7 linked regions of the Homo sapiens genome follow. The protein of the gene in region 1 purifies or fractionates together with the protein of each later gene. This does not show direct contact. Each region holds a gene or a part of one and is shown in the gene's direction. Other genes may lie near its edges. The genes, in order: MIER2, ACAD11, TFDP1, PHLDB3, ZNF644, PEX14 and EHMT1.

The links.
Region 2: the proteins of MIER2 (region 1) and ACAD11 purify together in Homo sapiens (affinity purification with mass spectrometry; 3 studies listed by BioGRID and IntAct, with this or other methods). This does not show direct contact.
Region 3: the proteins of MIER2 (region 1) and TFDP1 purify together in Homo sapiens (affinity purification with mass spectrometry; 3 studies listed by BioGRID and IntAct, with this or other methods). This does not show direct contact.
Region 4: the proteins of MIER2 (region 1) and PHLDB3 purify together in Homo sapiens (affinity purification with mass spectrometry; 2 studies listed by BioGRID and IntAct, with this or other methods). This does not show direct contact.
Region 5: the proteins of MIER2 (region 1) and ZNF644 purify together in Homo sapiens (affinity purification with mass spectrometry; 3 studies listed by BioGRID and IntAct, with this or other methods). This does not show direct contact.
Region 6: the proteins of MIER2 (region 1) and PEX14 purify together in Homo sapiens (affinity purification with mass spectrometry; 3 studies listed by BioGRID and IntAct, with this or other methods). This does not show direct contact.
Region 7: the proteins of MIER2 (region 1) and EHMT1 purify together in Homo sapiens (affinity purification with mass spectrometry; 3 studies listed by BioGRID and IntAct, with this or other methods). This does not show direct contact.

What each region holds. Positions count from the first base shown.
Region 1 is NC_000019.10:338,297-341,796, reverse strand, and holds part of MIER2 (mesoderm induction early response protein 2), read left to right. Parts: exon of another isoform or gene 1-1,283; intron 1,284-3,500. UniProt on the Homo sapiens protein: Transcriptional repressor.
Region 2 is NC_000003.12:132,572,810-132,576,309, reverse strand, and holds part of ACAD11 (acyl-CoA dehydrogenase family member 11), read left to right. Parts: intron 1-383; coding exon 384-538; intron 539-3,500. UniProt on the Homo sapiens protein: Acyl-CoA dehydrogenase, that exhibits maximal activity towards saturated C22-CoA.
Region 3 is NC_000013.11:113,633,253-113,636,752, forward strand, and holds part of TFDP1 (transcription factor Dp-1), read left to right. Parts: coding exon 1-33; intron 34-637; coding exon 638-781; intron 782-1,281; coding exon 1,282-1,350; intron 1,351-2,724; coding exon 2,725-2,876; intron 2,877-3,281; coding exon 3,282-3,448; intron 3,449-3,500. UniProt on the Homo sapiens protein: Can stimulate E2F-dependent transcription.
Region 4 is NC_000019.10:43,474,603-43,477,674, reverse strand, and holds the end of PHLDB3 (pleckstrin homology-like domain family B member 3), read left to right. Parts: intron 1-2,130; coding exon 2,131-2,265; 3' UTR 2,266-2,572; downstream 2,573-3,072.
Region 5 is NC_000001.11:90,977,036-90,980,535, reverse strand, and holds part of ZNF644 (zinc finger protein 644), read left to right. Parts: intron 1-3,500.
Region 6 is NC_000001.11:10,624,950-10,628,103, forward strand, and holds part of PEX14 (peroxisomal membrane protein PEX14), read left to right. Parts: intron 1-2,322; coding exon 2,323-2,414; intron 2,415-3,154. UniProt on the Homo sapiens protein: Component of the PEX13-PEX14 docking complex, a translocon channel that specifically mediates the import of peroxisomal cargo proteins bound to PEX5 receptor.
Region 7 is NC_000009.12:137,811,005-137,814,504, forward strand, and holds part of EHMT1 (histone-lysine N-methyltransferase EHMT1), read left to right. Parts: intron 1-456; coding exon 457-611; intron 612-2,001; coding exon 2,002-2,169; intron 2,170-2,381; coding exon 2,382-2,526; intron 2,527-3,426; coding exon 3,427-3,500. UniProt on the Homo sapiens protein: Histone methyltransferase that specifically mono- and dimethylates 'Lys-9' of histone H3 (H3K9me1 and H3K9me2, respectively) in euchromatin.

The sequences.
Region 1 (3,500 bases):
TTCTAGAATGCTGTTTACGCTTCCTTTGCTTTTTTTGTTGCCTGGAATACCGTTGGCCTGCTCCCCCTCTTTTTCCTGCTTCCACTTTGACAAAACAGAGGACTTTGTCTTTCCTGGGAGTGAACTCAGAGGGAAACATGCAGAGTGTTCTGAGTGAGTGAAGTAGAGTCCCTGGGAACCTGCTTTGAGAGTAGACTTGCACCTGGACACCAGGCAGGGGCAGCGGGAGGAAGAAGATCCATGAAGTCTGTATTCCGTGGTAAGTTCCAGGAACTCAGAGTCGCCTGGAAATGAACTTGGGGATCCCAGGCTGCTCAGGGCCTCCCTGTTAGCGGCCCTTTCTGCCGTTCCCAGCCGCTTCCCTCTTTGCCCCCCTCTGCCTTAGCTCTCCTGTTAAATGGCACGTCATATAAGGGCCAGATCCTCCTCAGACCCTGCAGACCACCTCTCCTGGGGCCATATGTTAACTCCCTGTTACTCGGTGTGGATCTCAAGCCTGCGGGACTGTTGTCAACTTGCCGTCCAGACTGGGGCCTCATTTGATGTGGTCGCCTGCCATCCCCTTGTTAGTCAGGCTCCTGGTTGCGGGAGTAGAAAGCCAGCCCCTGACTGAGGCAGGAACCGTTGCCCAGAGAACCTGTCCTCGACCCCTACCCAGAGGGTCCTAGAGGGGGCTGAGGGTGATTTCAGAGGTCACTTAGGATGCTTTCCCTGTGGCTTCACACCGCGTGTGGCTGTGTAGAGTGGTTGTGGGCTGGTGGCCACCTGCTGTGTCCTGGAAAGAGGTGAGGCCATCTCTGCCAGACCCAGGCCAACCCCAGGGCAGGAGGCGTGAGATGCCCCTGCAGCTGCCATGCACTCTGTGCTGCTTGCTTCCAGTCCCGTGGCCCCTTCCCCCTGGGGGCCCTGCTGGCTCTTCCTTCCCTCTGTCTTCTGTTTGCCCTCTGCCACCACGGAGCTAAACTTTCTAAAGCTGGATGGGTCCTGTCAGTCTCCACTTAGAGCTTGAGGTGCTCCTTGGTCCTTGGCAGCCTTGTTGCCAGAGTCACTCCAGGGCCAGTGGCTGCCCCAGCTCCCTTCCGTGGCTTTGCTGTACGTTGCTGTACAGTTGGCCCTTGAACCTCACGGGTTTGAACTGCATGGGTCACTTATACATGGATTTCCTTCCATCTCTGCCACCCCGAGACAGGAAGACCAACCCCTCCTCTTCCTCCTCAGCCTACTCAACGTGAAGATGATGAGGACGAAGACCTTTAGGATGATCCACTTCCACTTAATGAATAGTAAATACACTTTCTCTTTCTTACAATTTTCTTAATAACTTTTTCTGTAGTTTACTTTTTTTGTGAGAATACAGTACATAATACAATATATAAAATATGTGTTTATCAACTGTTGATGTTATCGGCAGTGCTCCCGACCAGCAGGAGGCTATTAATCAAGTGTCGGGGAGTCAGAAGTCATGCATGGGTTTTCACCTGTGTGGAGGGTTGGCACCCGTAACCCCTGCGTTGTTCAAGGGTCAACTGTACTAGCCGTTGTGTTCCCCAGTAGTGTGATGGGCTGGAAGGTGTTTGCAAGCCGCTGGCCTGAGCTCCACTTTGTAACTGCACCACTGAACCTGCTGTGTGAGCTTGGGTAACTGACTCTATCTCTTTGAGCTTGTTTCCTTGTTTTTTTGTGAGGGGAATGATTATACCACCTGTGAGGTTTTTTCTTGAGGACCCGTGAAGAAGTATTGAAATTCTTACTACACAAGTTTTTAAACTTCATTAAATATTTTAATCTACCCTTTTTGGCAGCAGCTTTCCCGAGGTATAATTCATTTACCATGCAGTTCACCGTTTTAATGTGTCCAGTTCAGTGGTTGTTAGTGTATTCACCCAGTTGTGCAGCCACCATCACAGTCAATTTTAAAACATTTTCATCACCCCAAAAGGAACCCCACACCCCTTAGTGGTCACTCCCCAAACCCCAGATCAACTCCCAGCCCCTTTCCACCAGGAATCCATTTTCTGTCTCTACGAATTTGCCTGCTCTAGACATTTGAGATTAAATGAGTCATACGACACGTGGCCTTTTGTGTCTGGCTGTTTCAGGAGCATGAGTCTTTCGAGGTGCGTCCATGTGGTAGTGTGTCAGTGCGTCCTTCTTTGCCCCGTTGCTAGTGCTTTGTTTTGTTTTTGTCAGCTGATGGATATTAGGACCCTGACCTGGGTCACATGGTTAAATACTATTTAACTTTTGGAGGAATTGCTGGACTATTTTCCAAAGTGGCTGCACTATTTTGACATTCCCACCGGCAGGGCACAGGAGAGTTCCACTTTGTCCACGTTCTTGTCAACACTTGTTACTGTCTTTTTGAGCACAGTTTTTATTCTCTGATTAGGAAGTGGTATCGTAGTGTGGACTTTGCTTGCTTTTGCCTGATATTACATTGAGTATCTTTTCCTGTGCTTATTGGCCATTTGTCTGTCCTCTTTGGAGAAATGTCTGTTCAGATCCTTTGCCTATTTTTCAATGGGATTCTCTCTTCCTTATTGAGTTTTAAACGTTCTTTATACTGAGAAGAAGTTCCTTATCAGATAGATTATTTTTCAGATATTTTCTCCTATTCTCTCAGTTGTCCTTTCACTTTCTTGGGGGCGTCCTTTGAAGCACAAAAGTTTTTAATTTTGGTGAAGTTGTTTATCCATTTGGTTTTTTTTTTTTTTTTTGGTCACTTGTGATTTTGGTGTCTTATCTAAGAAACCATTGCCAAATCCAAGGTCACAAACTTTTTTCCCACCACATTTTTAGATTCAATCAAAAGGTTACAAATATTTATCCATATATTTTCTCCGAAAAGTTGTGTGGTTTTGGCTCTTATATTTAAGGCCTTTGATCCATTTTGAGGTAATTTTTGCATATGGTATGAGATAGGGGTCCAACTTCATTCTTTTGCACATGGATATTCAACTGTCCCAGTACCATTTGTTAAAGACTGTTCATTCCTTCATGGAACTGTTTTGATACCTTTGTGGAAATCCAGTTGACTATGAATGTGTGACTGTATTTCTGGATTCTCAGTTCTAGTTCGTTGATCTTTGTGCTGTCCTTATGGCAGTACCACACTGTTTTGATTGCTGTGGCTCTGTGGTGAATTTTGAAATCAGGAAGTATTGTTTCAAGATTGTTTGGGCTGTTTGGGGTACCTTGAGCTTCCATATGCTTTTGAAATCGGCTCGTGGGTTTCTACAAAGAAGCCAACTGGGGTTCTGATAGACATGGTGTTGAATTTGTCAATCAGTGGGGGGTGTTGCCGTCTTAATGTTGTCTTCTCAGCCATGAACGTGGGATGCCTTTACATTCCCTTGGATCTTCCTTTCAACACTGCTTTGTTCACTCAGAGTACTGTACACATTTCACACTTCCCTTGATGCTATTGTAAATGGAATTGTTCTTTTTGTATTTGTTGCTTTTATATAGAAATAAAATTGATTTTTATGTATTGATTTTGT
Region 2 (3,500 bases), on another chromosome or scaffold:
CAGAAAATCTCTTCTTCCTTTGCCTTTGTTTCTCTCTGTATCTCTTACCCTTACCCACTCTTCTGGATTCTAAACTCCTAGTACAGGGACTATGTGTTATTCCAACTTTGTATCTATTGCAGCATTAATAAAATAGCTTATGCATAGTACATACTTAAGAGACAGTTCTGAAATTTGAAATGTTTAATGGTGGTGGTTTTAAAAACATAGAAATCAAAATTCCCATGAATTCATAGTGAACCTTATTATAGAACTGACTTTTTTTCACTAGAAAGCCATTTTTATTAAGGGCAGCTCATCTCTTTCCCAGGATTTGTATAAATAACAAAAGGAATGGGCTAGGCCATTTTCACATTCCCCCTTTTTTTCCCCTTTCTTCCCAGGTGAAGGTAGGGGATTTGAAATTTCCCAAGGCCGCCTTGGACCTGGCAGAATCCACCACTGTATGAGAACAGTAGGTTTGGCGGAACGCGCTTTGCAGATCATGTGTGAGCGGGCAACACAAAGGATAGCTTTCAAGAAGAAGTTGTATGCACATGTGAGGACGATTACTTATTTGAATTTATTGTAGCCCGGTGCACTACACTAACATTGAACAAAAACATTACTTGTGAGAGACAGACTTTCTCTACATGAACCGGGTGATTCTTTTCAATAAGGCATATTTATGTCTGTATTTAAATATAGTCTAATGAGAGGTATTTATCTTTATGAAAAATTAAATAGTTCCTAAAATGCTTCAACACCTCTGCACACAAGAGTGTAGACAGTTCCTTCAACTTTCTCAGATTCTTGTTCTTTAGAGAACCTGGAACATTAGAGCTCCCTGTGGACATGAAGGAGCTGTCATAAGGAAGAAGGATTTGCCTTGTCCATTGGTTTCCTAGAAGGAATTAGGACACATAAGTGTAAAGTTACAGGAAAACAGCCCAAAACTCAGGGAAAGGAGAAACATGCTAATAAACCTAAAAGTGGAATCAGCTTCTTCAGGAGGACTTGAATTCTGTCACTGGAGAAACACAAGTAGAAATGGGACCAACATTTTGTGAGATATTCATGACTTTTTGAATTATCATCTGTAAATTATATACTACTGAGTCTGTTGTTACAAATCACTGTAAACATAGTTACATGTGGCCCATATAATAAAAATTAGGAAATATGGCCAGGCGCAGTGGCTCACACCTGTAATCCCAGCACTTTGGGAGACCGAGGCGGGTGGGTTGCCTGAGCTCAGGAGTTCAAGACCAGCCTGGGCAACATGGTGAAACCCCGTCTCTACTAAAATACAAAAAAAAACAAAAAAAATTAACCAGGCATGGCGATGTGCACCTGTAGTCCCAGCTACTGGGGAGGCTGAGGCAGGAGTATTGCTTGAACCCGGGAGACAGAGGTTGCGTTCAGCCAAGATCGTGCCACTGCACTCCAGCCTGGCGACAGAGCGAGACTCTGTCTCCAGAAAAAGAAAAAAAATTAGGAAATATGTATTGAGATGAAATAGAAGGTATTATTTCAGACTTCCTTAAAAAGTCTTCTACAGAGAAGTAGGATATCCACATCATCTCCCTTCTAAGTTTTAAGAAGGCAAGAAAAACTATTATTAAATGTTCACTCTTTATTATTGCTAACATGTTAGTGTTAGGTCAAATCTGTGGTGATGGAATTGTATTTGTGTTTGCTGCACATGTATATTTTAGTATGTCGGTCTCCTTATACATTTTTGACCATCTTATGAAATTTGCAGTATGTATTTTTTACCTTAAATTATTATAATCTATGTTTGCTTTTTGTAAAGTATTATTCAGCATTATATGATTTATTTGTATAGTTTTTTAACTGAAAAGCTACAGCCCGCTTTATGACACTACACCTGGGAATAATTTGTCAGGAGCCCTTTTAGTATACAGCGAAGGCAAGTTTTTAGTATACAGCAAAGTTCAGCTGTTGGCTGGGCACTGTGGGAGGAGGTGAGAAAGTGTGACCCTCTGGGGCCCTGGATACAGCCTCTGATGCTGTTGAAGAAGGATGAAGAGGTGCTCAGGGCACCAACCATTACTTCTTACCCTTTTGTCAAGCTTGCATGCAAACTCTGGAGCAGGGTGAAGGGAGGACACAGTAAAGTCGACAAACAAGCATCGCGAATGCACAAAAGCCCTCTGTGCAAGTGCTGCTTTCCTGAGTGGTGTTTTAATACTGCATTAGTAAAAAATTTCCCTTCCACCTTTTAAAGTTAATGTGTCATGCAGAGCAAGCCTGGCTTTTTAACAAATATGCCTGTTTTCACTGGAAACTTTTCACATCTGGCACAAATAACGTGATCTGGCAGAAACAAAAAGATGTGTGAGCATGTCATAAGCAAAAATCTGGGCCAGCTTTTTTATTTTAATTTGTGAAAGGAACATTTCATTTCTTTGAATTTGGAGGCTCCTTCCAGCTGCCTTCTAATTTACTCCAGGCTGTAACGCAAAAAATTCTCCATCCCAGTTCTGTCTTAGGAAATATATTTGGCAGTTCCCTAGAGCACCTAGTTTCTACCCATTTAATGCTTTTCAGCAAATCTAGGGTCTATAGAGACCCAACTGAGAATACCTCCTTTATTCTAAAGCTGAGAAGTAAATGTCTTCTAAGTCTGTTCATGAAGTTATAAAGTTGTAATTATCCTGTTTTACAGCCATCAAAAAATATTTATTCACCACCAGCAACTTGTTTGAAATTAATTCAGAGCCATGTTTCAACCTCTAGGGCAGTGCCATCCAAAAGAAATATACTATGAACCTTAAATGTTATTTTAAATGTTCTAATAGCAACATTTTTAAAAAGTGAAAAGAAAAAGATGGAATTAATTTTAATAATATATTTTATTTAACCCAATATATCAAAAATACTATTTCAACATGAAATCAATATAAAAATTATTAATGAGATACTTTATATTTTAATATTTATTCTTCAATATGGGGTGCATATTTTATACTTATAGTACATCTCAGTTCAGACTAGGTATGTTTCAAATGCTCATTAGCCACATATGGTTAGTAGCTATCATGTTGAACATCACCGCTTTAGGGAAACTCTAATCAAATATCCCCTGTTGAAGGGCAAACATGACCAAGCATAAAAATGGCCAAGGTGTGCATGTTCTCACTCATAAGTGGGGAGATGAACAATAAGAACACATGGACATGGGGAGGGGAACAACACACACCGGGGCCAGTTGGAGGGTGGGGGCAAGGAGAGGGAGAGCATTAGGACAAATAGCTAATGCATGCAGGGCTTACAACCTAGATGACGTGTAGATAAGTGTAGCAAACCACCATGGCACCTGTATACCTATGTAACAAACCTACACATTTTGCACTTGTATCCCGGAACTTAAAATAATAAAGAAGAAAAGAAAGGAAAATAAAAGGACAATTAAACGTCAAAAAAATGGCTAAGATGTAAGGAAGGTGCGCAGTTTCAATCCCCTGCAGATGGCTAGCAAGTTATCCCAGCACCAT
Region 3 (3,500 bases), on another chromosome or scaffold:
GCTGCCGACAACCACATCTTACCAAACGAGTCAGTAAGTGTGTGCCGGGGGCCGAGAGGCTGGGGTGGCGGAGCCCAGCGGTGTGGTACGTTTCGCTCTTTTAATATCGGGAACAGTTAAAACCATACAGAAAATGCCAAGTACAGCATAAAAGAATTTTTACCAAACGAGTCAGTAAGTGTGTGCCGGGGCCGAGAGGCTGGGGTGGCGGAGCCCAGCGGTGTGGTACGTTTCGCTCTTTTAATATCGGGAACAGTTAAAACCATACAGAAAATGCCAAGTACAGCATAAAAGAATTTTTCCGATCCATTTGCTGGCACGATGCTTTGTCAACTCCAGTGAGTGAGCACGTGGGCTGGCTCTGCACGTCTAGCGGCCCAGAAATGCACAAATGCCCACCTCACCAGCTGGGCTCGACACCCGAGAGCCCCCGGCTCTCCTTCTGGAACACACTCAGGCTTCGCACAGCCCCGTCTTGCCCTGCGTCATCTGTGGGGTGGGAGCGCTCCCTGAGGGCATGTTGGGGTGGCGGCTCCGTGAGCGGGGTGCCCCTTTGAGCCAGTGCCCATGGTCTACAGTTTAAGGATCCACCGGCCTTTTTGGATCATTTGGAAACTCCACTCCCTGTCATCCCCAGGCTTATGACCAGAAAAACATAAGACGGCGCGTCTACGATGCCTTAAACGTGCTAATGGCCATGAACATCATCTCCAAGGAGAAGAAGGAGATCAAGTGGATTGGTCTGCCCACCAACTCGGCTCAGGAATGTCAGAACTTAGAGGTGCCCCTTCAGCCTTCCTTCAACCTTGATTTCCCTTCAAGTCCGTGTAGATGTTTTAGTCGTCGGTCACTCAGAAGGGTCTGGGCTCCGTGCCCTTATGCTCTCTGTGTCCGGCTGGCAGACGGTCATGCAGACGTCTCCCTGCGTTTCTCAGTCTTGGCTGTCAGGGGAGGGAGCATGGTTGGCCCAGACCCACTAGAGTCTGTTAAACTCTAGTGTAGGTTAATTCTGAATCCTAGTTTGTGGGATTTTTGTTTTCTTTTTAGATACCATAGTTAAATCCAAGAAATGAGAGGAAAGGGGAGAAGGTATAGTTTAGAAATGGAAAAAAAACTCACCTATATCTTGTAGCACCTGCTATGTCTAGATTTGTCCATATCCCTTCGATTACATTCTGGGTAAACATAGGTAACACTGTGAGGATGTGAGGATGTGGGTTTTAAAAAACGCTCTGTGGAACAGTTGTGATGATTCTTCACATGGGTGGTTTGTTTTTGAAGGTGGAAAGACAGAGGAGACTTGAAAGAATAAAACAGAAACAGTCTCAACTTCAAGAACTTATTCTACAGGTAAGAGAATACGTATCTGTGGAGGCAGGGTAATTTTTATTTTACTAATTTAGCTTTATAACGGCAACATACTGCCTTGGGTTACACTCCTGCATGGCAAATCAAATGACTGCTCTAAGATTCTGAGTGTGAGTTCATCTCATAGGTGTTGAACGTGGGCCTTATTCCCAGAGCGAGGTTGTGCACGTGCGTGTGCATGCATGTGTGTGTGCGTGCATGCATGCATGTGTGTGTGTGTGCATGTGCCTGTGTGCGTGCGTGCGTGTGCCTGTGTGCGTGTGCATGTGTGTGCGTGCATGTGCCTGTGTGCGTGTGTGTGTGTGCATGTGTGCATACATGTGTATGTGTGTATCTCTCGTCACAGCATCTAAATAGGCAAAAGACAGATGGAGGGATGACTTCATGCAAAAGCAACATTTGAAAAATCTCCTCAGAGGTGCTTAACCCAAGGCCCAGGTGCCAGGCAAGGCCTGTAAAACTGTGGTGGACACAGTGCACCTGGGTCTTGACAGTGCTGATCAGGGCCCTGGAGCTGGCCTTCCCCACCTCCCATTGAGTGCTGAGGGTGGGCGGCACCACTGGGGGCCCCGTGTCTGGTGTGGAGGGGGTTGTGTGCAAGGTGCTCACTGCAGAGCTGGCTGCTGCCCTGACCAAGGTGTGCTCGAGCCCTCCCAGAGGGGACGGTGTGGCAGCCGTGGTGATGGAGGCTCGTGGGCAGGAGCTCCTCAGGACCCACAGAGTGTCAGGAGGGACAGTCCTGGTTGCCAGTGCCTTAGGACCTGCCAGGTGGGGATAGACCCAGGGTGGCCGGGAGAGGAAGGGAATCTCCTGGCTCTACATTAATAGCAAAGAAGGTCTCTCCAAGTGGAACACTTGGTTTGGGGCCCTGAGGCCCTGGCCCTGGATTCAGCCTTGCAGGGCCTATTCCCCCAGAGGAGCACCCCTGCAGCACATGGGCCCTTCTGCGTTCCACTTTCCAGGGTGGGCAAAGTCCACGGCACGGCACCCCCTCCAAGGCCATCACCCTGTAGGTGCCATGGTGGTAGGTGGTCTTAGAGGGGTGAAGGACAGCAAGGAATCGACTTCCAAAATTGGTGTTTTGTTGAGCGCCGTTGCCGTGGAGGACACTTTTATCAGGGCACGGATGGCTGTGCGCCCGCTTTCCCTTAGTTCTCCCCTCAGGATCCCGTTTCCTGAGCGCTTTTCTCCCTGGGCTGCAGAGGTCAGCACCCAGCGGCCGGCGCTGGCATTTCAGATGTCCAGGCCAACTCCTCGCTGTCACGTGGACGCAGGGAGGGCTGTGAGGACCCCTCGAGCACAGGGGCTGCGTTCTTGTGCCGCCACGGGCCACCTGGCTCCTCTTATTTTTTTTAGCAAATTGCCTTCAAGAACCTGGTGCAGAGAAACCGGCATGCGGAGCAGCAGGCCAGCCGGCCACCGCCACCCAACTCAGTCATCCACCTGCCCTTCATCATCGTCAACACCAGCAAGAAGACGGTCATCGACTGCAGCATCTCCAATGACAAGTAGGTTGTGGGCGGGGAGCTGTTCCCTGGTCACCCATCTCTTTTTTAGGGAGCCGACCCTGTTGGTATTGTCACTAGGACAAGTTTTAAATGTTGTACAAATAGCAAATGTTGCACAAATTGCTGTCCATTGGGGGGTGGTGGGAGGCTGCCGCCATGTGGCAGATGGAAGGTCTCTGTTCCGGGAGCGTGTGCCTTAGGGCATGTCCTCCTGGGGAGAATAGGCCTCGATTTGCCTCTCATCTCATTTACTTCAGAGTTTATAAATTCTGTGAGGAGACACTGATGACTGGGAACCGGGAAGCTGTGTGTGGCGGTCAGCGGGTCAGCCGTCCTGGCTCCACCCCAGTGTGTACCGTCTCCGCTGGGAGACCCTGTCTTTCTGACTGTGCCTTTCCCCTTCAGATTTGAGTATCTGTTTAATTTTGACAACACATTTGAAATCCACGATGACATAGAAGTGCTGAAGCGGATGGGCATGGCTTGCGGGCTGGAGTCGGGGAGCTGCTCTGCCGAAGACCTTAAAATGGCCAGAAGTCTGGTCCCCAAGGCTCTGGAGCCATACGTGACAGGTCAGCAATGCCCAGACAACCTGGCGTGGCTGTGTGAGGAATGGCCCCCAGC
Region 4 (3,072 bases), about 43 Mb from region 1:
CCCGGCTAATTTTTGTATTTTTAGTAGAGACGGGGTTTCACTGTGTTGGCCAGGTTGGTCTCAAACTCCTGACCTCATGATCTGCCCACCTCAGCCTCTCAAAGTTCTGGGATTACAGGCGTGAACCACCGCACCACACGTGGCTCTTTTTTTTTTTTTAGATGGAGTCTGGCTCTGTTGCCCAGGCTGGAGTGCGGTGGCGCCATCTTGGCTCACTGCAACCTCTGCCTCCCGGGTTCAAGCGATTCTCCTGCCTCAGCCTCCCAAGTAGTTGGGATTACAGGCGTGCCACCACAGCTGGCTAACTTTTGTATTTTTAGTTGAGATGGGGTGTCACTGTGTTGGCCAGGCTGGTCTCGAACTCCTGACCTCATGATCTGCCCACCTTGGCCCCCCAAAGTGCTCGGATTACAGGCGTGAGCCACCGCACCTGGCCTGTCACTGTTAATTTTCTTGGAGCAAAAGTTTTAGAGCCAAAATATGGCAGACTCTGATGTCCAACTGGGAATAAATGAATGGAGAGGTCACAGCAAGGGTCGGGCAGCCTGGGAGCATCTAAAGGAGATGATCTGCCAGGCGTCGTGGCTCATGCCTATAATCCCAACATTTTGGGAGACCAAGATGGGAGGACTGCAGGAGGCCAGGAGTTTGAGACCAGCATGGTCAACATAGCAAGATCCCATCTCTGTTTTTTTTTTTTTATTTTTTAAATGAAAAATAAATAAAGGAGATGGTTGTTAGTTGGCTCCTGCCAACAGTTGCCAAGTGGGAGTGGGTCCCATGGTGTTGTCTTATATTTATTTTTTCCCAGAGAACTCAGGAATTGGAACTTGTATAAAGCACAGTGCCAAAAATTTAAATGTTGGCAACTGATACAATATTTAGAAAGCTCTGTGGAGAATAACCAAACTGTGGCTTTTTAGCAATTAGGTTGGAATCTCAGCTATGTGACATCAGGAAAGTGACTTCCTTTCTTTAGCCTTTAGCCTTAGTTTTCTTTGTTTCTTTTTCTTTTTTTTTTTCTTGCTCCATAGACCAGGCTGGAGTGCAGTGGTACAATCATAGCTCACTGCAGCCTCTATCTCTCGGGCTCAAGCAATCCTCCTGCCTCAGCCTCCTGAGTAGCTAGGACTATATGTGTGTGCCACCACACCCAGCTAATTTGTTTTGTTTTGTTTTTCTGGTATTTTTTTGTAGAGATGGGGTCTCCCTCTGTTGCCCAGGCTGGTCTTGAACTCCTGAGTTCAAGCAATCAATCCGCTTCAACCTCCCAAAGTGCTGGGATTGCAGGCGTGAGCCACCCAGCCCGGCCGGCCTGAGTTTTCTCACGTGTAGAATGGGTACGCATCAACCCATTCCATCAGGGTTATTGAGAGGGCTAAAAACAGATTATGGACATAAGGGATTTACTCAATTTGGGATTGGCAAGTGGGTACTCAAATAACGGATTCTAGACACTAACTTTTCCCAGGTACAAGGGGACCTAGATTTTGGGGAGGTGGAATTTGAATGCCTGTATTTCTAATATAGGAGAAGTTAGGCTGAGAGAAGGCGTCATAAGTCCTACTTTTAAATTTCTCGGCCTGGCACAGTGGCTCACGCCTGTAAGCCCAGCACTCTGGGAGGCCGAAGCAGGCGGATCACGAGGTCAAGAGATCGAGACCATCCTGACAAACACTGTGAAACCCTGGTCTGTACTAAAAATACAAAAATTAGCTGGGCGTGGTGGCACACGCCTGTAGTCCCAGCTACTCGGGAGGCTGAGGCAGGAGAATCGCTTGAACTCGAGAGGTGGAGGTTGCAGTGAGCCAAGATTGCGCCACTGCACTCCAGCCTGGCGACAGAGCCAGACTCAGTTTCAAAAAAAAAAGAAAAAAAATTTATCTTGCCCCTAATTTATCAATAGCGCTCTACATATGATAATTTTAAGCACTTCCTTGTGTTAATTCATTTAATCCTTATAACCCAGTGAGGTAGGTGGCATCATTTGGGAAGACAGGGAAACTGACATTCAGATACTTAAGTACCTTGTCCAGTGCCACACAGACTATAAGTAGCAAGGCTGGGTTCGCACCCAGACTGTGGCCGGTGTCTTTTGTCTGAATTACCCTCACTTTCTGCTTATTCCAGAGCCCCAACCCCCGCCTGACCTTCTGCGTCAAAACCTACGAACGCCTTTTCTACATGGTGGCTCCGAGCCCCGAAGCCATGCGCATTTGGATGGACGTCATCGTGACCGCCGCTGACGAAAACCACGCCCCCTGAGTGGCCCCGCCCTCTTGGGGGGAAGTCCCTTCGAGGCTCCGCCGGCGCGGGGCGCGGGGGCGTTCCTAGGCCCCGCCCACTGCCGGAAAACTTGGACGCACCGCTTTGGAACTCTCCCGGGAATTCCGCAGGCGCGGCAGTTCAGCTGGCCTGAGCTGCTGCGTTCTGGGTTGCAGGTGCCTTGCCCCCGACGGGATCGCCGGCCCCTAAGGCCCTGCCCGGGGCAGGAGGAAGATTGCAGGGGCGGGAAGAAACTATTTATTGGTGCTCCTGTGATACCGAATTAAATACGGAGGAAAAACAGGAATTGCTGCTGTGGTTTCCAGCCCAGGCATCCGGGGCCCCTTGACCCCTAGGCAGGACATCTGAGTTATCGGTACCTCTGGGAGCCACGCGTCCCACAGCCGGCTCTCTAGGAATGGAGGCCTTCAACTCTTAAGGTCATAGCTGGGAGAAGAGGGTGAGAGGCATGTCCCCCTTAGTGTTTGGCAGTTTTGCTTTTTTAGTTTGTAGGCCCTTCTGTTTCCACCCTTTCTGGCCTGACCGGCTGCTGGAAATTTCTAGGAACTCCTAGGCTTCCCCCCTTTAGGCCTTTGCCTACGTTGTTCCCTCTGCCCTTTTCTTCCCTTTTTTTCTTTTATCTATTTATTTTTATAGAGATGGGGTCTCACTGTGTTGCCCAGGCTGGTCTCCAACTCCTGGACTTAAGCGATCCACTCACCTTAGCCTCCCAAGGTGCTGAGATTACAGGTGTGAGCCACCACGCCTGGCCCCCCTCCTTCCCTTAATCAGCTGCACCTCATTCTT
Region 5 (3,500 bases), on another chromosome or scaffold:
ACTTGCTAACTTTTTTATACTCTTTTCCTTCTTCTACCTGTCTCTTTAATTGTCCCCCATCACTTTCAGAATAAAATGTAGTAAACCTTATAACACGGCATGCAGTTATCTCACCGTAGCTATGCCAGAATGCTGAGGATTATATGAATAAACTAAGTATGATGTTTCATATTCCTAGTTCTAGTCCTAGGTACATGTTGTCACTTTCCCTCAATCCCATGCCTCCCCAGTTGCCAGAGACCTCTTTGCTAGTTGTCAGCTTATCTTCTGAAATAGCCTATCTGAAGCATCATCTGATCCTTTAAGCCATGCCTGGCCGTAGTTTGTCTTCTTTATTAGAGTATGAGTTTGAAGGTAGATACCATCCATGTCTCGTTTATCTTAGCACAGTGCTGGGAATACTGTGTGCATTCAGTAAATGTTTTGTTAAACATTGACCAATGAAAAGAGTTCTCCCAGGCAAATAGAGATTCAGAATGCTAGCTGGAATGGGATGGGGGCATTGGCACTTGAGTTGCTGTTGGGCCATAGGAAGGAGCCACTGAGGATAATCCACAGACAGCATTATAGACATTTTAGAAAGAGAAATAAAATATTTCCCAAGTCTTCATTCAATCCAGTTGAAATACAGTGGCTAGTAAAATATTCTTAATTCAGACCTAAAGTAAGACTGTCATTGTTGATTTTGATTAGTATTTCCAAGTGGAGGTATTAATCCATGTTGCAGAAATTTGAAGTGTTTGCTATGAAGAGTATTTTCTTTGTGGGTTTGTACTAGTTATTTCTTTAAAGATTTTGGAATGTTAGACTAATACAAGTAGAAGATTGGGAACACTAGTCACACGTGTAAGAAGTGAAGAAAACTTTTCCTTATTTCTCTGAAGGTAAAAAACTGTTAGGATGGAGGAAGAAATTGTAGAATCATAGCCTGGAACTGTGATAACATTTTTGATTCCCACAGCTTAGGAAGCTTGCTATTTGTTTAAAGGTACTTAAATTTTTTTAAATTGTAGATATGTAATGTAGCATATATAAACTATATACTTTTTTTGTTTTGTTTTTGAGATGGAGTTTCGCTCTTGTTGCCCAGGTGGGAATGCAATGGCACAGTCTCAGCTCACTGCAACCTCTGCCTCCCAGGTTCAAGCAATTCTCCTGCCTCAGCCTCCCAAGTAGCTGGGATTACAGGCATGCGACACCACACCCAGCTAAATTTGTATTTTTTAAGTAGAGATGGGGTTTCACTATGTTCGTCAGGCTAGTCTCGAACTCCTGACCTCAGGTGACCCACCCTCCTTAGCCTTCCGAAGTGCTGGGATTACAGGTGTGAGCCACTGCACCTGGCCTAAACAATATACTCTCTTAAGAAATAACACACTTCTTAAATTTTAAAGCATTTTGACTAGTGGTTCTTTTTTTTTCTGTGTTTGAAATTTGGCTAGTTGGGTTGGCTATAGTAATCATCTGGAGATTTTTATGCCTGAAGCTTGATTGCCCTCTAGCAAGTCCAAAGCAAGAAGAGGTTCTTCCCCACAGGGATCAATTTGTTGCTTTTCCTTTCTGCAGCTTCTGCCATAATGTTTGAACACAGAGTTAGACGTTGACATTTTCTCATGCTGTTCCTTCTGTCTTCCCACAAGGGTTTTCTTAGACATAGATTCTTACCGTATATAGACCTTGGTTCTTTTTTTTTTTTTTTAAATCCTGATTGTGAAGTGTGTTTAGTCATGTTGTTGGTTAGAGTTGAGGAGCCAGAGAAATTTAACCTTGAGATTGCCTAACTTACATGTCTCCACAAAGACTTTAGACTAATTTTTCTTCTCAGAGGCTGCTAGCTGTACCTCCGTTGCAGAGTCTTCGTCTTCATTTTGTGCTTCAATATTTAACATAGGCAGCTGCTGCTAAGACTGCAGAATCCCCGAATCCAAGGATTTGAAATTCTTTATGGATATTTGTCTTAGATTAATTTCTCTAATTTCTAACTTAACCTCTCTGTACTTCAGTTTCTTTAGTAGCATTGTAGATGTGCTGCCCTTTGTTGTAGCATGAAAAAGAAGACTTTTTAATTAATAAAATTCTTTGTCCTTCATTCTAGATGAGATTGTACAACGTACATTGACCCTTTCCAGCTGTATTGCCAAGTAACAGTTAGTATTTAGTATTTCACTTTTTTTTTTTTTTTTAAGACAAAGTTTTGCTCTTGTTGCCCAGGCTGGAGTGCAATGGCACTATTTTGGCTCCCTGCAACCTCCGCCTCCTGAGTTCATGCGTTTCTCCTGCCTCAGCCTCCTGAGTAGCTGGGACTATAGGTGCATGCCACCACACCTGGCTAATTTTAGTATTTTTAGTAGAGATGGGGTTTCACTGTGTTGGCCACGCTGGTCTCAAACTCCTGACCTCAGGCGATCCACCGGCCTCAGCCTCCCAAAGTGCTGGGATGATAGGCGTGAGCCACTGCACCTGGCCACATTTAGTATTTTCAAAATATAAATTTTTTATAAAAGTCACATGTGACCTTATGAGCAAATAGTACAGCAATGTTTAAAGTAAAAAGTAAAACTCTTCTCTCCCACCCAGCACTATACTCCCCATAAGTTACCAAAAATAGCTGGTATGTATTCTACATCTTTTTCTTTCTGCTTATCAATATATTTTGGACATTTTTCCATATATTTACCACATTTATTATAACTGTTACCTTATTAATATTTAGGTAAGTCTCAGGATTTTTTGCCTGTATATAAGTACTGCTGCAATAAATATTTTTGATGGTATTAACGGGAGTGTGTGAGAGTGTCAGGATAATTTGTAGCAGTAGATTGCTGGATCAAGGATATGTGCCCTTTAACTTCTGATGTAATAAAACTGCAATGAGGTTGTACCACTTAATACTCTTATTGCTAGTTTATGAGAATATCTGTTTTCCCACATTCTGCTAAATATTTGTTTTATCCTTGCTAGTCTAATTGGTGGAAAGTGGTATTTATTTTACTGGGCATTTTTTAAATTGTGAGAGTGCTCAAAGGTTTGAAATATCACCTTCATTACAACTTAAGTTCTGTTGGAGAATATATGTGAAGATTTTTATTTTTTACTGTTAAGTCCATCAGTTCCATCAATTAACATACCTTTGTGTTTTAGGTATTACAGTCAAAGTTATTTAATATTGAATAATCAGATTATTTGCCTTTTTTTCCCTTCATACTATTTTTTTAGGATAAATATTTCCTTATGGTAAATTTCTTTATAGTTTGCTACAAACTAACATCAGCATAGCCTGTAAATAAAAAGAAAATAAAAGCCATTACTAAATATTAGGTTCATTAAGTCTAGATTGATAGCAGACTGCTTAAAATCTGATGTCTTTTACAACGCAATCATTAGAATACTTTGCTTCTTTGTGGTTATTTTTTACTATCCTTATTATGTATGATAAGCTACAGTTGTTAGTCTTAATTCCAGCTTTAATGTGAGTGAACTCCTTTTTTTTTTTAAGTATT
Region 6 (3,154 bases), on another chromosome or scaffold:
ACCAACTCCCAAGGCAGTGTCCTTGCCTCACTGCCCAAATGTGAAGAAATCTTGGCGTGGCAGCTTCCAGGATCAGGCTGAATCCTGGTCCTGCCACTTGTTAGCTGTATGACCACAGGCAAGTTACTTAACCTCTCTGAGTCTTAGTCTCCTCATCTGTAAAATGGAGCCATAACGGCACCTAATTCCTGGGGCTCTTCATGGGTTCAAGAGGGTGCCTGGCTCCAGCCAGCTCGCAGGATTGCAGGCCTAGGTTCTGTGGGTGGGTAACAGAGGTCATCCCTGAGGCGGTATCAGACAGACCGGGCCCAGGAGACAGTGGCCTGGTAGCTCCAGAACACCCACTGGCTCCTCTCTCTGTCCCTTGTCCCACAGCTCTGTGGCCGGCGGACACTGCTCCCTGTCTGCCCCCACAGCCTGGGCTCTGGAGAGTCCCATCCCGAGTTGCTTACCCAGGGAAAGCCACTCCTAGCGTACGAGTTGGCTTGAGCCAGCACTCAGATCTTTTGCATTTGCAAAAACCATGAAAATGACAATCTTTCCATGGAGTCTGGGGTGTCTCTTGTGAAGAGGGTCCCAGGAATCTCCCCCCTGGATATCCAAACCACACACAGAGGTGCCACCTGCTCTTCCTCCTGGGATGGCTGTGGGTACTGGTGACCACCTCCAGCCACTGCAATGCGTGTTCTCCACGGGTGGCCGGTCCCTAAAGCACCAGGAAGCCCAGCGACAGCCCTGCCTGCTCTCCTGGGTCAGGTCATCTTTTGGATCCATGCTCTGCCTGTGGCCAGAAGCCATTCCGGAAATTGGAAAACTGTTTTCAGGCCTTACGCCTGAGATTAAGACCACATGTTGTGTTTAAGAAGCAGTGGGGGCCCGGGATGTGCTTGGTGGTGAGAGGGGTTGGGCCCCTCAGAGTCCCTCGAGCTGGCTTTGCTGCCGCTGTCCCTGGCCCACCCCAGCCTTCTCTCCCGAGCTGCATGGGGCCACTGGCTTGGCATCTAAACGCGTATGTGTGAGGACTTTGGTTACCCCATAAACCAAAGACCCAGAGCTGTGTTTTCTCAGCTGTAATGTAAGTTTTTATATCTGGCTTCCAAACTCCTACTGGAGCACTGTAAAAAATTAAAAAGAAGAGCTTTAAGTAATTAAAAAACCTACATAAAACTGAAGGCTATGAGTTTTCTACAACTGTTTTTTAAAGAGGCTGGCTAAAAAGCCCCAGATGTCAGATTTTATTTCTAAATCCTGGCATCTGGCACCATATGCGTTTGGAAATCTGAGTCCCTTGTAGGCCAGTGAGTGGAAATTGTGCCCTTGTTCATGGGCTGCTGTAGCTTTCAAGGTCTCAGAGAAGCCAGAGCCGTGGCTCCTGGGTCCTCCCTGTCTGGCGGTCTGGAGTAGGAACCCTGAGGGGCTGTGTCTGGGGGTGGTGGGTGACACGCACTCACTCTCAGACTGCCCGGGTTTTCCTTCCTGAGACCTACAGGCCCTCTGAAGGACTTCTCCCTGCTAAGGTGTGCCAGCTGGACTGCTTGCTGGGGTGAGCCCACAGCAGCCCCCGACCCCACGTCAGAGGCCAGGCCTCTGTAAGCCAGCCAGCGGCCCACAGCACACTGGTAGGGAACAGCCAGGGAACGTCCCCTCTGCCCACCTCGGGGGAGCAGTATCAGGAGAGCTGGCAATATTCATCTGTGCACTTAAAGATGGCCTGGGGTGGCCTTCAGCCTGGGCGAGGTAGACCTCACACGGAGGCCTCGTGGCATTGTCCTCTGTGCACATGCCACAAGCAGGTTGCCACCAGCAGCTCGCATTTGGGGACCTCTGGTTTGGCTGTCCTCTTCCCCGTCTATACCAGCAAGATTTTCCAGAAGTAAGATGTAGTTCTGTGAAGTTTATTTGGAAAACAGTGTTACCTTCAAAGGGGAAAGGTGTGCATGGAAGGATGGGGTTTGTCAGAGATGGTGGCTGTTTCCTCTTTCCACCCCGGACCATCTTAAATCCCAGACATCATCCCACTTCATACCGCACCCGCACGCCTCCGCATGTCTCTAAAAGACGCCCACGATACCATTATGTCACCTAAAAACACGTAATGATTCCTTACGTCATCAGATGTCCAAACAGAGCTGTGGGAATGTTTAAGGATGTTGTCATCCAGAGACGTGGCAGGCAGTGGGCAGTGGCAGAACCTTCCCCCGGGTTCCCCAGAACAGACCCAGAAGGCCCCACCTGCTGCCCCCACCCAGGTCCTCCTGCAGCCGCAGGCCCCGCCCGTGCCGCAAGGCGCCCGCCCTGAGCCTCCCTGTGCTCTGCTTTCAGGCCACCACATCCACCAACTGGATCCTGGAGTCCCAGAATATCAACGAACTCAAGTCCGAAATTAACTCCTTGAAAGGGCTTCTTTTAAATCGGTAGGAGGGAGGAATGGGGACCCTGTTCTGGTCGGGCCTGGAAAGGAGGACTGGGAGCTCTGGGGCATGGGAGGGGCATGACGCCCACCCCCACCCCCAAGGACCCCATCTGTCTGGGCGACTCAGGCACTGAGTCTGGGGCCTTTTGAGCTTCTCTCTTCATTCCCCAGTTGACACCCTCTCCACTCCAGAGGTGACGGTCTGTGGCACACAAGTTTTGAAATACAGTTCCCAGGCCTGTGAAGACCTGGTCAGGGACAGCTTGAGCCAAAAAGCAGGGCCCTTGGAGCAGAGGAGAACTTCCTGGTTTGGCTCCTCCTTCCTGAGCTCCAGGTGACCACTCAGTGACAGCTTTGTCCCAGGGAAAGCCCCTGCGGGAGAGTCTTTGTGTTTTGTACTTGGAAGGGTTCCACAACTGAAGACGTGGGCAGAAGCAGGCCCTGCCCCCCGGCTTCTTGGTTGTCCCCCTGTTGTCCCTCTGTAGCGACAGCACATTGTCACCAATGCAGCCTCAGAGGTAGGGTGACCAACTTGTCCTGCTTTGCCTGGGACTGTCCTGGTTTTATTTATTTTTATTTTTATTTTTTTTTGAGATGGAGTCTCGCTCTGTTGCCCAGGCTGCAGTGCAGTGGCACGATCTCGGCTCACTGCAACCTCTGCCTCCCGGGTTCACGCCATTCTCCTGCCTCAGCCTCCCGAGTAGCTGGGATTACAGGCGCCCGCCACCACTCCCGGCTAAT
Region 7 (3,500 bases), on another chromosome or scaffold:
ATTTTAATTTAATCAAATTTGCACGTCCTTTTTTCAAATCTTTCAAAAGCATTATCCTATCCTATGACTATACCCCTGCTTGGAAATGAATATAATTTTTAAAAATACATGAAAGAAAAGTGCCTCCAAGTGTTAATATGTTGAGTGTAGGTTGATATAATTCTGGATGACCTTTTCCCTATTTTTATTCTTTACTGTGATTATGCTACTTTTATAATTATGTTATTTTTACAATGAAACAAACAAAACATGAAACGAAGTGCCTTCCAGAGTTGAGATGGGCGCTAGGTTCCCATCCGGTGACCTGTGGCACCCTTTCCACCTGGCCCTGCTGCGGACGGCCACGCATGCTCCAGAGCCTCTCCCCGGGCACATGGGCTGCAGCTGCTGTGGCCCAGCCCCAGCACTGTGAGCCAGCAGGAAGCCTGCACTGAGCTCTGGCTTGTGTCTGTTCAGGAGGAGAACATTTGCCTGCACTGGGCGGCGTTCTCCGGCTGCGTGGACATAGCCGAGATCCTGCTGGCTGCCAAGTGCGACCTCCACGCCGTGAACATCCACGGAGACTCGCCACTGCACATTGCCGCCCGGGAGAACCGCTACGACTGTGTCGTGTGAGTGCAGTGCTTCCCCCAGCGCGGGCTGGCGCTGACCTGACCTGGGCGCCCAGAGAGACCGCTTGACAGTCTTGTGTTCACACTTGGGGCGTGAGTGGACACAGGCCCTCTGTTCCTTCGTGTGGAAGTCCATCCTTGGTGTTCCACACGCAGAGAAGTGTCTTTCCCAGTCCACGTTTGAGATCAGCTGTGGTTTATTTCTGGGTTAGGGAGGATTGTCATGAAAAAATTCCCAAGTTGGAGTCTCAGACCTGATACTCCTCACATGGCTGAGGGGCAGCATGGGAACAGCCCTGCTCCCAGCAGGGACCTGCCAGCTCAGAGTCCCCGAGAGGCTCAGGGTGCCTTCTGGGAGCAGTGCCACCCACAGCCAGGGCTGGAGTTGCTGGGGGCTGTGGCACTCGCCACTCAGGGCCCTTTTAAAACTTGAGACCTTCAGCTGGGTGGTGGTGGCTCACGCCTGTAATCCCAGCACTTTGGGAGGCTGAGGCAGGCAGATCACCTGAGGTCAGGAGTTTGAGACTAGCCTGGCCAACATGGTGAAACCCCATCTCTACTAAAATACAAAAATTAGCCGGCCATGGTGGCATGTGCCTGTAACCCCAGCTACTCCAGAGGCTGAGGCAGGCGAATCGCTTGAACCCAGGAGGCAAGAGATTGCAGTGAGTGGAGATTGCGACGCTACACTCCAACCTGGGCGACAGAGTGAGATTCTGTCTCAAAAAAAACCCAAAAAACAAAAAAAGCTTGAGACCTTGATCCCATAAAGTCATCCACACTCAGGTTGTTGTTGGTGGCCTGGGATGGAGTGTGTGTTTGGCTGCTGGGGAAGGACAGGGAACTGTGGGTGCTCCAGGCACCAGCCTCCAGTGACTCCCTGGCCCCTACACATGGGGCTGTGCCCTCCCACATGTGGATCTCACGGTGGCTCAGCCAGGTTGGTCATCTGGTTGTGTGAAGCCCAGCTCCACGTACGATGACTGCAGTCTGGATGCAGTGAGCAGGAGTGGAACTGAGGACTGCTCACGCTGTGCGTGGCCCAAGCTTGGCCTCTCTCCCTCCTTGCTTCCCTTCTTATCCTTGAGGGTAAATTTGAATGAAAAATCCAAGAAAAATCAAATGCCGCCCTGGATTTTACACTCTTCCTGCTAAGAAAACAGCCTGCTGACTTTGACAGTGAATGTGGGAGAGGAGGAAGGGAATCATGTTCCTGGGTGAGCTAAAGCCCGTCTTTGCAGAGTCATTGCTGAGCAGACTTGTTCAAGTTATCTCACAGTGAATAGTGTTCCCTTTATTGTTAGTGATGACGGACATTTTATAAATCTCATCTGTATCACATTTTCAAGTCAGCTTTAAATGTTTTGTGGCCTTACATTTTCCCTTTTAGCCTCTTTCTTTCTCGGGATTCAGATGTCACCTTAAAGAACAAGGAAGGAGAGACGCCCCTGCAGTGTGCGAGCCTCAACTCTCAGGTGTGGAGCGCTCTGCAGATGAGCAAGGCTCTGCAGGACTCGGCCCCCGACAGGCCCAGCCCCGTGGAGAGGATAGTGAGCAGGTGAGCCCAGCCCCAGGACGGCTTTGTGGCAAATCAGCGGTCAGCAGGGCTTTGGGAACTTGCGGTGAAAGCTGCTCCTGAAGCCGAAACATCCCCAGGCTGCAGTCCAAATTGTCAGGGCCAGGTGTTTGCCAGCCGCCCCACTGCACGCTGTGCCACCCCCTGGGCAGAGCACGTCAGCCACCAGGTGACACCTGTCCTTTCCATGGCAGGGACATCGCTCGAGGCTACGAGCGCATCCCCATCCCCTGTGTCAACGCCGTGGACAGCGAGCCATGCCCCAGCAACTACAAGTACGTCTCTCAGAACTGCGTGACGTCCCCCATGAACATCGACAGAAATATCACTCATCTGCAGGTGAGTGACGGCAGATGAAGGGCTGACTCAGGCCAGGACATGGGACAGGCAGAAGCTTCTTGAGCCTGGGGTCCTGGGTTCTCACCACTCAGAGCAGGAGGGCTTATGGGGGGCTTCCCAGGAAGACCTCATTCTCTTTGTAGTTGCCTCCCGTGAAAGAGCTGGAAGGCAGATAAAGGTTCTGTCAGGCCCAGCCCTGGGCCCTCTCATTGCTCTTCCAAGGCTTCTTACCGACCCAAAGCAGTGGCAGGCATCTTTGTGCCTTTTTTGTAACCTCACACTCAGGGGCCCCGGTGTGGCTTCGTGCTGGGGGCACAGGCGAGAGGAGCCCTTGCGAGGCCTGCAGGACGACCTGGATCCCTGCACCTCCCAGCCCCCGGAGAGATGGGTCCAGCACATGCCAGCTTTCCCAGCCTCCGAGTGCATGCAGCCTGGTGCCCTCACTGCTTGCGCCTTCTCGAGCACTTTCCTTGTGGCTCTGCTTGTGGGCAGCTCCCTCCTCTTCCCAGGCCGGGCACTGCCCAGGCCCCCCCCCCCCCCCGCCCCCCGCCCCACAAGGTGTGTCAGGCTCTGTGTTCTTGCCTTTCCCATCGAGCATCTGGCCACAAATGCAGCCGCCGCCCAGCCCTTCACCCACCCCACGTCACCCACTGCCGCGTCGCTGCCCTGCCTGCCCCCTGTCCCTCTGTCAGGGTCCTCAGCCAGAGCTCCCTCCCACAGGCACTCGACATGTTTCTGCCTGCACAGCCTTCTCCCTAAGAGGCCACACACTCACGTGGTGCCTTTGAGAAGCACTTACCAGAATCAGGGTTAACAGAACTGGAAGACGTAGTTGTGACTGGGAGGGGAAATGGAAGGCCTGTGCCTGCACGTCTGACCCCCCGGCGCCTCTCTTCTCAGTACTGCGTGTGCATCGACGACTGCTCCTCCAGCAACTGCATGTGCGGCCAGCTCAGCATGCGCTGCTGGTACGA